2 linked regions of the Homo sapiens genome follow. The protein of the gene in region 1 purifies or fractionates together with the protein of each later gene. This does not show direct contact. Each region holds a gene or a part of one and is shown on either strand. Other genes may lie near its edges.

What was found.
Region 2: the proteins of DENND10 (region 1) and ZBTB47 purify together in Homo sapiens (affinity purification with mass spectrometry; one large-scale study listed by BioGRID and IntAct). This does not show direct contact.

What each region holds. Positions count from the first base shown.
Region 1 is NC_000010.11:119,102,505-119,107,049, forward strand, and holds the start of DENND10 (DENN domain-containing protein 10), read left to right. Parts: upstream 1-1,608; 5' UTR 1,609-1,638; coding exon 1,639-1,693; intron 1,694-2,260; exon of another isoform or gene 2,261-2,518; intron 2,519-2,806; exon of another isoform or gene 2,807-2,980; coding exon of another isoform or gene 2,981-2,991; intron 2,992-4,545. UniProt on the Homo sapiens protein: Guanine nucleotide exchange factor (GEF) regulating homeostasis of late endocytic pathway, including endosomal positioning, maturation and secretion, possibly through activating Rab proteins such as RAB27A and RAB27B.
Region 2 is NC_000003.12:42,665,805-42,668,310, forward strand, and holds the end of ZBTB47 (zinc finger and BTB domain-containing protein 47), read left to right. Parts: 3' UTR 1-1,776; downstream 1,777-2,506. UniProt on the Homo sapiens protein: May be involved in transcriptional regulation.

The sequences.
Region 1 (4,545 bases):
AAGCCCAGAGAATAGAAGGGCACGTAGTTCAGGGTGCTGCCTTCCAGGGGTTCAGTTTAGTGAGAGAAACAGGAATGCCATATACACACCTAAATATACTCCAATGTATAAATTGCAGCCTGGGCAACATAGCGAGAAACTGTCTCCAAAAAAAAAAGAAAGAAAAAAGAAAAAAACAGGCGCAGTGGCTCACGCCTGTAATCCCAGCTACGCAGGAGGCTGAGGCAGGAGAATCCCTTAAAACCGAGAGGCGGAGGTTGCAGTGAGCCGAGATCGCGCTATTGCACTCCAGGCCGGGCAACTGAACAAGACTCCATCTCAAAAAAAAAAAAAAAAAAAGAAAAAAGAAAAAAAGATGAGGGTGGGATTGTATTCCTGCAGACACCAAGGACCCTCCCTAATTAGCTCTGTGTGACTTGGGGTTGGGGCAGACAGTAGATCCAGAGGAGGAATCTTGGAGCCAAATCTTCCAATGTCTGAGTCGTTACTATCATTCAGATCTCAGTTCAAATATCCCTTTCTCAGAGAAGCCTTTCTTGACACCCATTTTAGAGCAGCACACCTCCACTCTCTAACACACTGCCTCCAGGGCACATATCGTTGCCTCCAGGGCACATATCATTCTGAGCTTTTTTACTATTATCTATCTATCTGTCATCTATTTATCTATTTATTTATTTTTGAGACAGGGTCTCACTCTGTCACCCAGGCTGGAGTGAGTGGCAGGATCACAGCTCACTGCAGCCTCAAAATCCTGGGCTCAAATGATTTTCCTGCCTCAGCCTGAGAGTAGCTGGGACTACAGGTGCATGCCACTATGCCTGGCTAATTTTTAAATTTTTTTTGTAGAGATGGGTCTCACTATGTTGCCAAGGCTGATCTCGAACTCCTGACCTCAAGTGATGCTCCTGCCTTGGCCTCCCATCGTGTTGGGATCAGAGGCGTGAGCCACCTCACCTGGCCTGGATTATTTATTCTACTCGCCAATTGTCTGTCTTCCCCAGTGGACTGCTCTGTCTTGTTCAGCCCTATAAGGTATCCCCAGTGCCTTATTAGGCCCTCAATTTTTGTTTTGTTTTGTTTTGGGGGTGGCTGGATGAAGGAATGGATGGAGACCCTTCCTCCATCCTCAGGACGCCTCTTTTTAGGAACAAGGTGACCTGTTCTTTTGAGCTTGACCAGAGGGCAGAGGTAGAACAAGGAAAGCCTACGACGGGAAGAAAGATTGGAGTGGATTGAGAAGAAGAAGGATGAACAGCTGGATTAGAGAAATTGAGGCAGGCTGCGGAGACTCAAGGAGGTTTCCAAGGGCGAAGGGCCACGGGCAGAAGACGAGTGGAGCTGCACTGAGCAGGTCCTGGCAGGGAGGACTGGGGCTGGAATAGGTGGGCCTGCGGGTGGGGCGGGGCCGACGGGGGGGGTTGATGGTCCTGTGATGGGGCGGGGCGGGAGGGAGGCGGGTCCTACAGCGGGAGGCGGGGCCTGTGATGGTCCGGGGAGGGAGGCGGGGCTTATGATGGGCCGGGGAGGGAGGCGGGGCCTGTGATGGGGGCGGGCCCTACGGCGGGCGGGGCGGGGTTCGGGTGCGAGGCCGGTCCTGCAGGCGGCAGCCAGAGCTGCGCGCCGCGGCGGCGGAAGATGGCTGCGGCCGAGGTGGCGGACACTCAGCTGATGCTTGGAGTCGGGCTGATCGGTGAGGACGTAGGCGCCCTGCCTGGAAGCCCGCACCCTGGTTCTGCCTCTGCTCCACCTCGGCCCGGGGCAGCCCGGGCTCCCGCGGCCCCCGGCGCCGACCGCATGAGGAGGGCGCGGCCCCCTCCCTGTTGGGCCTGGACTGGGGACTGCGGAGCCCGGCCTCCTTGGTGCAGGGGACCCGGCCCGCCGCCCTCGCCCGCCCGCCCGCGGCCGCCTGTGGGGCCTGCCCGGCCCGAGGGAGCCCGGGGACCTCCAAGATTCCGGGGTGGAGCTCCCCCTGCACGCCCCGGGTTGCCCGGCGGAGCCGGGACGTCGAGCGCTCCCAGGCTGGGCAGCTGCGAGGGGCGCTGCGCGGGCGGGGCCGGGCCGGGCGGGAGCAGCCGGCTGGCGGCGCGGCGCGGCGCGGCGGGGAGGAGGCAGGGTCCGGTTCCCCCGAGCCGGGGGCGGGCGGCTGCCTCGGAGCCACGGGTGACTGCCCGCCCGGGCGGCCCCCATCGTGGGACCGGGCAGCTGGAGACTGCTGGGCCGGGTGCTGCGCGTTGTACACACATTGTCTCCTTTTAGCTCTCACCAAGGACCGAGGGGCCGTGGGAAACGTCTGACGCCCACTTCACGGAGGAGCAAATGGAGGCCCAGGCCGTCATTGTGCACGGACACACCATAGGCCGTACAGAGCCGGGAGTGGGACCCTCGCAGTGTATCCCAGAGCCCCCAACCCCCACCAGTGGAGAGCTCCTGCATCATGTGATCGAGCTTGTGCATAAATAAAGCAGGAGTTTCTACACAATCCTGTGTGGTGGAATCTCGGTTAGCTCTGAGGAATGTAATTATCTTCCATAATTAAAAAATATCACACGGGGATCTTTGGGCAGCCTCGTGCAGTATTTAGGGGATGGAACCCGTTGGTTCCCTTCGAAAAAGTTTTATTTTCCCGAGATTTTTGCACACCCCTAAACTCTTTCTATTCCCCAAGTGCGCAATAACATTGCTTAGGCTTTAGCAAAACTGAAGAAATATGCTGATTATTTTTCAGTGCCTCAAAGCAGTGCGTTTATGTGGGAATCGCTTACTGTTTTTATTTCTTTGTCTTTCTTCTTTTTTTTTTTTTTAGACGGGGTCTCCCTCTTATCCAGGCTGGAGTGCAGTAGCGCAATCATCGCTCTCTGCAGCCTCCACCTCCCAGGCCCAAACCATCCTCCCGCCTCGGCCTCCGAGTAGCTGGGACCTCAGGCGTGCACCACCACCCGATTAATTTTTGTATTTTTTGTGGAGATGGGATACCGACATGTTGTCCAGGTGGATTACTGTATTTATTTCTAATGTGATTTTCAAACTGCTTCAAAACAAAACCTAAGTAACTTAGTTTCTCCAGAAGGTACTTTTGAACTAAGGCTAAGTTAAACTGTCTTTATCTACTAATAGCAAATAAAAAGATGACATATGATCATATTTTGAACTCAGCAGTTTTTTAATTATTCACACTAACGTGCATTTAAAAGGGGTTTGCAGCCAGCCTGGGCAATGTGGTAAAACCCTCGTGTCTCTACAAAAAATACAAAAATTAGCCGGGTGTGGTGTGCCTGTAGGTGGGAGGATTGCTTGGTCCCAGGAGGCAGAGGTTGCAGTGAACTGAGATCATGCCACTGTACTCCAGCATGGGTGACAGAGTGAGACCCCCCCCAACCCCGTCTCAAAAAAAGAAATTGAAAAAAGAGGCCAGGCGTGGTGGCTCATGCCTGTAATCCTAGCACTTTGGGAGGCTGAGGCAGGTGGATCAATTGAGGCTGGGAGTTGATCAGCCTGGCCAATATAGCGAGACCCTGTCTTCACTAAAAAGGCAAAAAATTAACTGGGCGTGGTGGTGCACACCTGTAATCTCAGCTACTTAGGAGGCTGAGGCAGGAGAATCACTTGAACCCGGGAGGTGGAAGTTGCAGTGAGCTGAGATCAGAGGTGGAGGTTGCAGTGAGCTGAGATTGCGCCACCGCACTGCAGCCCAAGTGACAGAGTTAGACCCTGTCTCAGAGAGAGAAAAAAAAACAGAATGTGAGTGTCTTTTTTAGTATAATGATTTCTTTTCCTTTCGGCAGATACCCAGTAATGGGATTACTGGGTGGAATGGTAATTCTGTTTTCAATAACAATTTTTTATTTGTAGTCTTTAGAGACAGGGTCTCTCTCTGTTGACTAGGCTGGAATGCAGTGGTGCATAGCTCACGACAACCTCTGAATCTTGGGCTAACTTGATCCTCCCACCTTAGCTTCCTGAGTAGCTGGGACCATAGGCACACACCACCATGTCCAGCTAATTAAAATTTTTTTTTTGTAGAGATGCGGTCTCACTATGTGGCCCAGGTTGGTCTGGAACTTCTGGCCTCAGGCGATCCTCCTGGGTTCCCAAAGTGTTAGGATTATAGGCATGAGCCATTATGCTTGGCCTAAACAATTTTAAATACAAAATTCACACAGTTGGTATGCAACATGGTTTGAAATATTTCACTATTTTCTTCATCTCTGGTTTTGTTTTCGACAAACCTTTTCTATGTATTTATTAAAAATTATTCGGCTGGGCACGGTGGCTCACGCCTATAATCCCAGCACTTTGGGGGGCCGAGGCAGGCAGATCATCTGAGGTGGGGAGTTCGAGACCAGCCTGACCAATGTGGAGAAACCAAAACCCCATCTTTACTAAAAATACAAAATTAGCCAGGAGTGGTGGTGCATGCCTGTAACCCCAGCCACTCGGGAGGCTGAAGCAGGAGAATAGCTTGAATCTGGGAGATGGAGGTTGTGGTGAGCTGAGATCACTGCATTGCACTCCAGCCTGGGCAATAAGAGCAAAACTCCATTT
Region 2 (2,506 bases), on another chromosome or scaffold:
TGCTTGCCCCCATGAGGCTAGCACTAATAGGAAACCCTTTTTTGTTGTCATTTAATGTCTTTATTCCTGCCTTTAATATGGGGAGGAAGGTTCCATAAGCTACATGTTTCCTAGTTAAGCTCTTTCCTATTGTGTTTATACAGTTTTGTTTGTTATACTCTTTGCACCTTAAACCCCCACCACTCCCCGACACTATTGCCTTCCCAGCATGGCTGGAGTGGGAAGAGGCTTGGGCCCCGGGGGAATGGTTAGGGGGACTGAACCCCTCTGACCTTATGAGGCCCATGGCACTGGGGCAGGGAGCTGGGGACATTTTAATCATCAATAAACGAAGCACTTTATTCTGTACAGATTTGGGCAGGCCCAAGGTGCCCGAGTGATCTGAGGATTTATAATCCAAGCCACACCACCCTGGTTGTTCTCTGGGCTTGGAGGGTACAGTGCCAGCAGCTTCCTTGCCCAATTGATGTTGGAGCTGTAGACGTACGCTCAGGCGCTCCTGCTGTCCTGGGGGAGAGAAGGTTCGCCCCTCCCCGAGGAAGAAGGCTTCTGGTCAGGACCCCCACCCCAAGGCTGGGGACTCCAGGCTCCTGCTTTACTGTAGCTCTTTTTCTTCCTTGCACTCCTTGATCTTTGGGCTTCCGTGATGTCCTCAGGGTCCCCCCCTCCCTGTTGCTATTTTTAATCTCTAGTCCCAGTGCCTGGCAGCTCTTTGGAGCTGGCTCACATTTTCCCAAAAAAAGTTGATCTCTCCCAGTGGGCTGTAGGCAGGGTCCTCCATGGGTTTCCAACCCCCATCACTGGCACCAGGATCTCCCACAGGCACTGGTGGTGTCATCACCTGCTGGCCCCACTACAGCCTGAGTAGGCCTGAGTGGCCGTGGCCAGGCTGAGACCTGTCAGGCCATACTGACAAGCAGAGGTCAGAGACACTGGTGGGGAGCTGGCAATGAAACCCTGTCCTGGGACATGGGTTTCATGTTCTTGTACACTTCCCCTCTGGGATCAGGTGAGGGGTCCAGACAGCTGACCAGACAGCTTGACAGCTGGTCAAGACGGTCACGGGAGCTCTAGGTGGGCACAACCAACCCCTCTCCTGGGAGGCCCCTGCCCCACTGGGGATAGGAGCCTGTGTCCCTGGTGCTAAGCACTCTCTTCACTTGGGCCATTGTTGGTGGGGGCTCCTTTCCGGCCAGACCACAAGGCCAGAAGCAATAATGGCACCTCAGCAGTTCCAGTATGGATAGGGGTTCCTGTTTTACTAGCTTTTACATCTTTTTATTTAAAACAAAACAACACAAAAAAACAATGTGCCCCCAGATGTCAGAATGAGGCGACTAGGGCACCATACTCACTTTCCAGGGCTGGGGGAAGGGGGACGCAGGATCATCCCCTCCCAAGGAGATCTGTGGGGGTCCCACCGTCCATCTGGACTTCTCAGCCTGTTTGGCTAGAACTCAGGCCTGGAGTCTGGGTCTGCCCCCTCCCCGGCTCCTTGGGGCTCTCTGGTCTCAGGCCAGCTGGCGATGGGTGGCTAGAGTGATGAACTCAAGCCCTGTGGCCACAGTTCTGGGAGCCTTCAACCCTGGCTCATGCTGCCATAGTCTCCACGGTGCCCTTCACAGAGGGCTTGGTAGTGGCAGAATGGCCATGCCCAGGTGTGTGTTGAGACCATTGACAACTGCTCGTGTACAGGCACCCCACAGCCCCAGAGCATGGGGCACAGCAGGCATGCGAGTGAGAGGATGAAGGGGAATAAAGTCAGTACAACTCGTGTCCCTTGGCCCAGCCTCTTCTTTGCACTTGGCCTGCCTTGACTCTTGGACCAGAGCAAGGGGCTGGGCTTTGGGGACCACCCAGAGTCAGGAGATGAGGCAAGGGCAGCGGTGGGGGATGGGGGATGGGCAAATAGGTGGGTCTTGGGTCAGATGCAGAGGGGCATGAAAGAGGAGAAGTCCTGAAGGCAATGGCCACAAGAGGCCAGGGCCTGTGCAGGTGTGGTTTCCCATGAGCACCAGGCATGGAGCCACAGTAGCTCTGGGACAGCAGGGACCGGTGCTCCCACTTATGTGCTGAGCCCTGGGGATGCTGTGATGAGCAGTATGGACTCATTCCTCCCTCGGCAGGCAGGGGAGGTCAGAAGGGGCCAGATAACAGAGATGCTGACTCAGGCACCCGGGAAGACAAAAGCTCAGATGGAAGACAGGTGGTAGCCTCCAGAGGAGCAGATGGCTCTCCCTGGGGAACTCAGAATTGTTTCATGGCACAAGTAGTATATACAGAGAGCACTCACTCCATGCCAAATGGAATTCTAGGCCCCGGGGACACGTGCAGAATGAGCCTCCTTGTGGCACTTAACTCTGTATATGTAGAAAAGGGTCAGACAGGACTGGGAGGGACTGGGAGAGAAGTCTCATGGGTGGATTTGTTGACTGGCCAGAAAGGAGGTGCAGGTTCCTAGGATGTTGGCACTGCCTTTCTGCACAGTCCTGCTATGAATGGAAGA